Linked DNA regions of Homo sapiens: region 2 is linked to region 1. The links come from fine-mapping of genetic effects on gene expression. A gene starts in region 1. The other region holds a variant in brackets. All regions are shown on one strand. Distances are from middle to middle.

Region 1 (5,393 bases):
TAACACATCTGGATTCCAATATAAGTCAGTTAAAAGCCTGTAATACAAGTATTCCACTTCTAAAATGGGATAAGATAGAATTTCTAATGTCCTCAATTTAAATGTTTATCAACTTTGTGAATATTATATATCTTAACACAACCAATGAAACTTTATGACATTAAGGAGCTCAGAACCCAACCTGTGGCTGCATGAATTGTTACCCTAAATTCAACAAACTAATATTTTATGGTCTTCAGCAAAAAGAACCACAAAGACATGCTCTGTCTAAACACACTTTGCTTGAACATTCTTACAGATAGGAAGTATACCTTCTCACAAGGCATGCAATCCATTTATATTATCATTTGATCTTTGATTGGTAAAATCAATTTGGATAGAATTTCCTAAACTAAACGACCAGGTGCTTTCTTCTCTGGGGAATCTTACAGAAGGAGACTGCAGTTAGTTGCAACAGATTTTTTATTAAAGAGAATTTCTGTAGCTAGAACAACAAAGCTTGTTCCCTGTGAACCAAATCTACCAATAATAGCTCTATTAAAAGAGTTTCCTATTTACATAGATTTTATACCAAATATATTTGGTAATTCATAAACCTTACAAACATTTACTTAACACTTACCATGAATTGGGTAATGTGCTCAACACATTATCCCACTAAATCTTAGTAATAGCCCTATTAAGTAAATACCATATCATAAGTATTATCTCTCTTTTACTGACATGGATAATGGAACTCAAGGAGATTGAGTAACTTGTACTGAATCACACAGCCAGTAAATTGTAAAGATGGGACTCAAACCTAGGGAGATGGACTCCAGAGCCTTAACAACTATTTATTTATACATTCTCCAATTGAGCTACACACTTCTTGAAGGCAAAGGCAATGCCTGAGTCACCTTTCATGTTCAAATCATATTAAAAAGTTAGCAAGATGTAATTATCAGTGTACTATGTAAATCTTTGTGAATGATCAATAATTACATATTTTCATTATATATATTTTAGTAGATAATATTTATATACATTCAACATTCTAAATATAGAAAGTTTACAGAGAAAAATAAAGCCTTTTTTTCCAATCCTGTCCTCCACCTCTGCATCCCATTCTTCTTCACAGAGGCAACTGATTCAAGTCATTACATAGTTATTGAGTGTTAACTACAACTATGTTAAGTACAGCTATATATGTTAGATGCCGTAGCCACAGAAATCAGTTTACAATCTAATGCAGTGGATACAGCATGTATACATATAATATAAGGTTGCTACAAATGCTATCTGAGGTAGAGCTGTTTGAAAGAATACTAATACTTAAATGTTTAATTCAACTGACTTGATTGACAACTGATTAGCTGAGTGGAAAAGATGGATGAGAAAGATTGTGAGACTTAATTGGCTGGTGGTATGGTGATATGATTGACAATAACTGCTAAGTCAGAGAGGGATATATTAAGGAGGAGAAGAAAAGCAACAAATCTGGTTTTGATGTGTTCACTTTGTTATAATTATTGATTATTTACTGAATATGAATATTTATCTTTGTTTTTGAGTCAATAAATATACCTTTGTAAAGACAGAATTAAAGTATTAGTATTTCTTTCAAACTGGAGGCATTTCTCCCACTAACATATTTCATCAAAACTTATAATAAGCTTGGTTCCAGAGGAAGAAATGAGGGATAACCAAAAATAGAGACATTAATAATAGTGTAACGCCCAGTGATAAATCTCAATAGGCAGTGATGACAGACATGTTTTCCCAAACACAAGGATGCTGTAAGGGCCAAACAGAAATGATGGCCCCTCCCCAGCACCTCATTTTGCCCCTTCCTTCAGCTATGCCTCTACTCTCCTTAGATACAAGGGAGGTGGATTTTTCTCTTCTCTGAGATAGCTTGATGGAACCACAGGAACAATGAAGTGGGCTCCTGGCTCTTTTCTCTGTGGCAGATGGGGTGCCATGCCCACCTTCAGACAAAGGGAAGATTGAGCTCAAAAGCTCCCTGAGAAGTGAGAGCCTATGAACATGGTTGACACAGAGGGACAGGAATGTATTTCCAGGGTCATTCATTCCTGGGAATAGTGAACTGGGACATGGGGGAAGTCAGTCTCCTCCTGCCACAGCCACAGATTAAAAATAATAATGTTAACTGATCCCTAGGCTAAAATAATAGTGTTAACTGATCCCTAAGCTAAGAAAGTTCTTTTGGTAATTCAGGTGATGGCAGCAGGACCCATCTTAAGGATAGACTAGGTTTGCTTAGTTCGAGGTCATATCTGTTTGCTCTCAGCCATGTACTGGAAGAAGTTGCATCACACAGCCTCCAGGACTGCCCTCCTCCTCACAGCAATGGATAATGCTTCACTAGCCTTTGCAGATAATTTTGGATCAGAGAAAAAACCTTGAGCTGGGCCAAAAAGGAGGAGCTTCAACCTGTGTGCAAAATCTGGGAACCTGACAGTATAGGTTGGGGGCCAGGATGAGGAAAAAGGAACGGGAAAGACCTGCCCACCCTTCTGGTAAGGAGGCCCCGTGATCAGCTCCAGCCATTTGCAGTCCTGGCTATCCCAGGAGCTTACATAAAGGGACAATTGGAGCCTGAGAGGTGACAGTGCTGACACTACAAGGCTCGGAGCTCCGGGCACTCAGACATCATGAGTTGGTCCTTGCACCCCCGGAATTTAATTCTCTACTTCTATGCTCTTTTATTTCTCTCTTCAACATGTGTAGCAGTAAGTGTGCTCTTCACAAAACGTTGTTTAAAATGGAAAGCTGGAAAATAAAACAGATAATAAACTAGTGAAATTTCTGTATTTTTTCTCTTTTAGTATGTTGCTACCAGAGACAACTGCTGCATCTTAGATGAAAGATTCGTAAGTAGTTTTTATGTTTCTCCCTTTGTGTGTGAACTGGAGAGGGGCAGAGGAATAGAAATAATTCCCTCATAAATATCATCTGGCACTTGTAACTTTTTAAAAACATAGTCTAGGTTTTACCTATTTTTCTTAATAGATTTTAAGAGTAGCATCTGTCTACATTTTTAATCACTGTTATATTTTCAGGGTAGTTATTGTCCAACTACCTGTGGCATTGCAGATTTCCTGTCTACTTATCAAACCAAAGTAGACAAGGATCTACAGTCTTTGGAAGACATCTTACATCAAGTTGAAAACAAAACATCAGAAGTCAAACAGCTGATAAAAGCAATCCAACTCACTTATAATCCTGATGAATCATCAAAACCAAGTGAGAAAATAAAGACTACTGACCAAAAAATAATAATAATAATCTGTGAAGTTCTTTTGCTGTTGTTTTAGTTGTTCTATTTGCTTAAGGATTTTTATGTCTCTGATCCTATATTACAGATATGATAGACGCTGCTACTTTGAAGTCCAGGAAAATGTTAGAAGAAATTATGAAATATGAAGCATCGATTTTAACACATGACTCAAGTATTCGGTAAGGATTTTTGTTTTAATTTGCTCTGCAAGACTGATTTAGTTTTTATTTAATATTCTATACTTGAGTGAAAGTAATTTTTAATGTGTTTTCCCCATTTATAATATCCCAGTGACATTATGCCTGATTATGTTGAGCATAGTAGAGATAGAAGTTTTTAGTGCAATATAAATTATACTGGGTTATAATTGCTTATTAATAATCACATTGAAGAAAGATGTTCTAGATGTCTTCAAATGCTAGTTTGACCATATTTATCAAAAATTTTTTCCCCATCCCCCATTTATCTTACAACATAAAATCAATCTCATAGGAATTTGGGTGTTGAAAATAAAATCCTCTTTATAAAAATGCTGACAAATTGGTGGTTAAAAAAATTAGCAAGCAGAGGCATAGTAAGGATTTTGGCTCCTAAAGTAAATTATATTGAATGTGGAGCAGGAAGAAACATGTCTTGAGAGACTAAGTGTGGCAAATATTGCAAAGCTCATATTGATCATTGCAGAATGAACCTGCATAGTCTCTTCCCTTCATTTGGAAGTGAATGTCTCTGTTAAAGCTTCTCAGGGACTCATAAACTTTCTGAACATAAGGTCTCAGATACAGTTTTAATATTTTTCCCCAATTTTTTTTTCTGAATTTTTCTCAAAGCAGCTTGAGAAATTGAGATAAATAGTAGCTAGGGAGAAGTGGCCCAGGAAAGATTTCTCCTCTTTTTGCTATCAGAGGGCCCTTGTTATTATTGTTATTATTATTACTTGCATTATTATTGTCCATCATTGAAGTTGAAGGAGGTTATTGTACAGAAATTGCCTAAGACAAGGTAGAGGGAAAACGTGGACAAATAGTTTGTCTACCCTTTTTTACTTCAAAGAAAGAACGGTTTATGCATTGTAGACAGTTTTCTATCATTTTTGGATATTTGCAAGCCACCCTGTAAGTAACTACAAAAGGAGGGTTTTTACTTCCCCCAGTCCATTCCCAAAGCTATGTAACCAGAAGCATTAAAGAAGAAAGGGGAAGTATCTGTTGTTTTATTTTACATACAATAACGTTCCAGATCATGTCCCTGTGTAAGTTATATTTTAGATTGAAGCTTATATGTATAGCCTCAGTAGATCCACAAGTGAAAGGTATACTCCTTCAGCACATGTGAATTACTGAACTGAGCTTTTCCTGCTTCTAAAGCATCAGGGGGTGTTCCTATTAACCAGTCCCGCCACTCTTGCAGGTTGCTATCTGCTGTCCCTTATGCATAAAGTAAAAAGCAAAATGTCAATGACATTTGCTTATTGACAAGGACTTTGTTATTTGTGTTGGGAGTTGAGACAATATGCCCCATTCTAAGTAAAAAGATTCAGGTCCACATTGTATTCCTGTTTTAATTGATTTTTTGATTTGTTTTTCTTTTTCAAAAAGTTTATAATTTTAATTCATGTTAATTTAGTAATATAATTTTACATTTTCCTCAAGAATGGAATAATTTATCAGAAAGCACTTCTTAAGAAAATACTTAGCAGTTTCCAAAGAAAATATAAAATTACTCTTCTGAAAGGAATACTTATTTTTGTCTTCTTATTTTTGTTATCTTATGTTTCTGTTTGTAGATATTTGCAGGAAATATATAATTCAAATAATCAAAAGATTGTTAACCTGAAAGAGAAGGTAGCCCAGCTTGAAGCACAGTGCCAGGAACCTTGCAAAGACACGGTGCAAATCCATGATATCACTGGGAAAGGTAACTGATGAAGGTTATATTGGGATTAGGTTCATCAAAGTAAGTAATGTAAAGGAGAAAGTATGTACTGGAAAGTATAGGAATAGTTTAGAAAGTGGCTACCCATTAAGTCTAAGAATTTCAGTTGTCTAGACCTTTCTTGAATAGCTAAAAAAAACAGTTTAAAAGGAATGCTGATGTGAAAAGTAAGAAA
Region 2 (5,393 bases), 85 kb after region 1:
GGCTTTTGTTGAATGAGCAACGGTCCATGTATAGGCAACAACGCGAGGAAGGCATTCATAGGAAAGTCACAAGAAGAAACTTGTAGCTTTTCTGCCAGGGGCATGATGATGAGCTCACAGGAATGGCAAGGGATGGTCTGTAGGTGTTGGCTGGGCTTCTTGATGTTTCCAAGGGGTGGAGCTGACTCTTGGCTGACTCTTTCTTTTTGAAGAGGTTATAAACTCTCTGCTCTGGTCTCCTTGGAGCTTCTCTTTTTGAATCTTAAAACCCTAGTTTCTACTTCAAAAATAATATTAAAATAGTTCCTTTCTCCTTAAATTCCTGCTTTAACAATCTTAATTCTCTCCCAGGCAACGTGATTGCCTCCAGCTGATGAAGGGAAGAGTCAGGAAGTGGAGGAGAGAAAAACACAAGGATTAATATGCAGGATGTTATCTCACTGCAAGTACCTCCACCATGGTGTCTTCTAACACTATGGTAAAATGACTGTTAATATGAAAAAAAATTTTTGTTTAAGCAAATCAAAATCAGTGTAGTTTCTGTTGATTAAAAAAGTACAAAAGAAAAATATCCATCAAACTTCCTAAGAAGTATTGTCCTGTACTGAGCATGCCAAATGTAAGAGAAAATTCTTAAAAGGAGAACCCATAAATACGGATGTTGCCAAAAAGCATGACATTATCATTTAGTAGATTGCTTTATGAATGAAAACAGCTATTTGAATAAAAAGTCTTGGCTGTCTACCACCCTCTTGGAAGCTGTTTGCAACGACAATTGCAATTAATAATAATTATATTATTAATTAATAATAATTGCTTCCAATACCTTTGGTGGCATTAGAAGGTACTGTTTTCCTTAGGAATTAATTGTAGGATTTTTCATTTCATTCTCACAAGGTGTGAAGGTGGAGACATATTACAGTAAATCATTTGCATTGGAGTGTGGCCAAGAGAGGGAATGTTGCAAGAGCAAAATACGATGAATGTCCATGAGAGAGTGGGAGGCCATAGTAGCTACAGGGAAGTAGGATGGAGCCAAAATAATCTCAAGTGCTTGTATGACTGGGACTATTAGTGAGGAATAAGAAACAAGACTCCCTGAGCGAGCCTGTGACTAAATGAAAGTACCAGAGTCCACTTTCACTGGGGTCAGAATGTTAGCTCTTCCTTGTCCTCTGCTGGTGTTTGAAAAATTTGATATCCATTATTAACATAGGTTCAAAATACTGAGAGAAATAGCTAAGGGATGATCCCCAGATACAATGAAAGTAACTCTGTTTTCTTTATTTCTGGGTCCTAGCTATGGCAGGTTATCTCCTATTTTAATAAGATATTAGAATTTTGCATGATTCATTCACTCATTCAACAAACACTTATTGACAGGTCACCCTTCCCTCCTTCCAGCACAGAGGCAGGTTTTTCTCTGTTTTTATTTCTCTTAGTTATTTCAGTTGGGAAACCTGTGTAACTATATGCAAAACGTATATATATGCACACATTTATTTAAAATTATTGCTGAATTTTGAAAAATCATTTATGAAAAATTATGACATAACATATATTATTATTCTAGTATACAGGAATTGTAATGTGGGCCAAACAAGTCATTCTTGATTTTCAGATGTGCCATAGTTTTAGTTTTACATTTTATTACTTTGTAACATTACAGATTTTGCCAGTTCATTTAATCAAACTTTATTAAATTGTGTAACTGTAAATGGAACTTTCTAAGTATAAGTCTATTCTAGCTAGCAAAATGTATTTTATCAAGTATAGTAACAGAAGAGTGATATACATAGGTTAGAAGTCCGTATCTATGAAAAAAATTCTTCTAAGACTTGACATAATTGTAACCTTATATTGGACTGTAAACTTAAACTTGGATGTATATATTGTCATTTACATAGTGTCATATATTCACACTAACTTGCTTGTCTGTGAACGATTAGAATGCTGAACTTTCACATTTAGACTGTTTTAAAATTGTCCACTACTGAGACTTAAATCAATTATTGATAATAAAACTGCATTATTGATTAATATGTATAAAGGACAGCTAATGTGTTAGTATTACCCTATCATTTAACTTGAACTATGGATGAAAAATGTAAGATATTCCTTTAAGTACTTTCTGTTCAACATCTTTTAAGAGAGACTTGGATTTGAGGGGGTAATAAAACATTTATTCTAGTGTAATGTCACAGATTTGCAGATAGTTCATTTTAAATCTCTGAGGTCTACACTCATTAACACTGACTTATAAAAAAGAAAGAGTTCCATTTACAAGATATTTGGTAAATGAAGAAAAGCATAAATATCACCAGCCACACTGTTCCCTACCCGCCCCCAAGCCCCAGCCACAGGGTGGAAGACATTCATGGACAGAAGCATGCTTTTCAGGGTAAATGTGACTTAGGATTCTTCCTGGATGGTGCATACGCCTCATAGTTCCCCAT[T/C]CTTCCATCCTGGAGAGAGCTGGAGGAGTGGAATGGGGTGTCTGGGAATTCTCCTAACACAATGGGGCAATGTCTTCACAGCATCCCTCCCCATTTGTTGTCATGACTTGCACCTGCAGGGCGCTCACTCCACCAGCTACCGCCCACCTGTGCAGAATCCTCATTTCACTTCCCTTCATCAAAGACCCAGCTGGTGGATGGAGCGCTAACTTCTCCTGGCTTAATTTTCTTTTTCTTAAATAAGGAGACAAATTCAATAAACTGGAACATTCTTCTGGTTTGATTGTGTGGACCAATCAAAATGTGGTCTTTGATAGCTTCTGAAATGAAACATACACACTATTTTATTAAAGGCAGAAAAACAAATATAGATGAAAATATCCAAAGTCTGCTACCAACTTTACGTTTTAAAAAATCCTCAGCCCGATTTTATATAACCATAAGCAGAAATTTCAGAAATATTCTCCTCAGAGGACAAAGTGAAAAAAGTTTTTTAATGCTTCTAACCCTCTAATGAGACTTATTTTCCTTAAACGGTTGGTCTGCCCTTATGTCCTGTCCTGTAACCTGTTTTGTTTGTTTGTTGTTTTTTTACCCTCATCTTTTCTGTGATGATAAATCTGTTCTTTTTTGTCAATGTCCTTGATCTTCCCAGAGCCTGGCAGGTTCCACCCCACCCTCTCCACAGACCTCCCTCCCCTTGCCTTCAGTTCCCTCATCCTCTTCCTCCTCAAGCTGCTCTATTACCAGTAACACATTTTAAATGTGTGGTTGGCTTTTTATAGACAATGGTTAGATTTAATATGTATGATTTATGTTTGAAAAGCAAGCAAGTTGTGGAAAGACTTGGGAATCGAGATTTGTTCTCTTTCTTGGATTGAAATCAATTTTGAAGGGTAGCACATAATGCCACATGCAGCCTATGGAACTTTATATCACACTAGACTTGGTTTAGTACACATGGATCAGGATGATGCTTTCAAAGGTGACATGCTCAAGATTTTGTTCCCCTTGGGAAATTCAGGACAGTGTTTCATCTTTTTTTTCAATAATTGAGGCCTCTTGTCTGTAATATCTTATACTTTCCAAAGAATTTTCATGTATTTTTTTTTAAATTGTGGTGAAATACACATAGAATTTATCATAACCATTTTTAATTATACACATCAGTAGTGCTGTGTACATTTGCATTGTTGTGCAATCAATCCTGAGAATGCTTTTCATCTGCAAAACTGAAACTCTGCACCAATTAAACAATAAACCCCCGTTCCCCTTTCCTCGCAGCTCCAGGAAACCACCTGTTTACTTTCTGTCTTTATGAATTTGATTACTCTAGGTTCCTCATATGAGTGGAATTGCATTTATCTTTTTACAGCTAGCCTATTTCACTCAGCATGGTGTCCTCAAGGTTCATCCATGTTGTAGCCCATGTCAGAATTTCCTTTCCTTTTAAGGCTGAATAATATTCCATTTTATGTATATACCACCTTTTTATTCATCCACTCATGTGTCAATGGACACTCGGGGAGCTGCCACCTTTTGACCGTTGTGAATAATGCTGCTCTAAACATGGGTATACAAATATCTCTTTGAGATCTTACTTTCATTTTTTTGGATGTGTATCCAGAAATTGAATTGCCGGATCACATGGTAATTGTATTTTTCATTTTTTGAGGAATTGTCATATTGTTTTCCATAATGACTGCACCATTTTTGATTCCCATCAACAGTGCACAAGGGTTCCAATTTTTCCACATCCTCACCAACACTTACTTTGTTTTGTTGTTTTTCAAAAAAGGCAGGCTTACAAGATGCCTAAACTGTTTATTTCACCAGCCAGTATTTCTGATTTTCTTCCTGAGGCTGAATTTTAAAACTTTAAAAGTCTACACATACTGCATTTAGACTTTCTATATGCAGAGAAAGGGGCTGAGAGCAGAAGAGGTCAGGCCCCAGGCTGGTTTTGGGTGGGAAAAGTGGCAAAGATTCCTCTGTAACAGTCTGTGTCAGTTTTCTAACAATTGAAATGCCTTTAAGCTCTCCAACATCCACAAAATTTCCTCTAGGGCATCTATGACAGAAAAACACTCCTCTTTCATATACACAACACCAGCAGGGAGCAGAGGGAAGGGAGTTGGCAGAAAGGAGTGGACATTACACAGGCACAGGCCACATTTTTAATTCATCCAGAAAAAGGACTTCTGATTCAGTTTAATGGAAATGAGTTGTATAAAACTATAACATGTCCTGCCTCTTCCTCAAAACGAGCTGGGCTGAATTTTTGTGATTGGAAGCATTTCCCATAACGGTGAATTAAGCGCTATAAAAAATAAAATCAGTCCCATCTCTATGAGTAGCATAAGAGCTGCTTCCAGGAACCTAGGGATGCCCACATTCCATACCCCACCCAGATATGGTCAATTCCTCAGACAGCTACATGGGAAGAATAAAACCCTTTTGTCAACTTTTTTGGGGAGTGAGGGAGAGATGGTGTTCAGGGGAGATGTGGGATAGATTTTTTTTAAATCCCTCCCCCACCGTCCCACCTCCCTACCAAAACCTACACACACACACTCAAGACGAACCTGCATGCCCATTTTTAAGAAAGCTTTTCTTTCCTGTGACTACAGGATCCCAGCATCCAGCCTCCTTCAGGCTGCGAGACGATGCCAATTAATGGCACAGATCTAATGTTTCAACATACTACAGAAGGCTCCTGTGTTATCTCACAAGCTGAGGGAACAGGGGCAAAGAAGTGGACTCTCATGGGGGACTTGCTGTTTGTCTTAAGTCCAATCTACTCAGCAACGCTTTCAGGTCCAGGGGCTGGGAGAGGTTCTGTGGGCACTTGTGGCAGACGACCTGATGGTCCCAGCCCATTGTGGTAAGCAGAAAGTGATTGAGGGGGGATCAAGCAGCATCTCTCGCAAGGTCACA

Evidence for each region. PIP is the estimated chance that this variant, and not a neighbour inherited with it, causes the effect. A credible set is the group of variants that fine-mapping cannot tell apart.
Region 2: its variant is the best candidate, but not a certain one, in a credible set for the expression of FGG in lung (GTEx, PIP 0.89).

The regions. Positions count from the first base shown.
Region 1 is chr4:154,609,874-154,615,266 of GRCh38, reverse strand. FGG (fibrinogen gamma chain) reads left to right here and starts at 2,611. Exons shown (of 9, transcript NM_021870.3): 1 at 2,611-2,735; 2 at 2,832-2,876; 3 at 3,066-3,249; 4 at 3,369-3,462; 5 at 5,070-5,200. The coding sequence starts at 2,658. RefSeq lists an enhancer at 1,397-2,569.
Region 2 is chr4:154,524,670-154,530,062 of GRCh38, reverse strand. It overlaps the pseudogene WDR77P1. Among named protein-coding and RNA genes, the nearest start is that of PLRG1, 23 kb to the left of the region's middle. The variant T/C (reference allele first, on the strand shown) is at 2,457.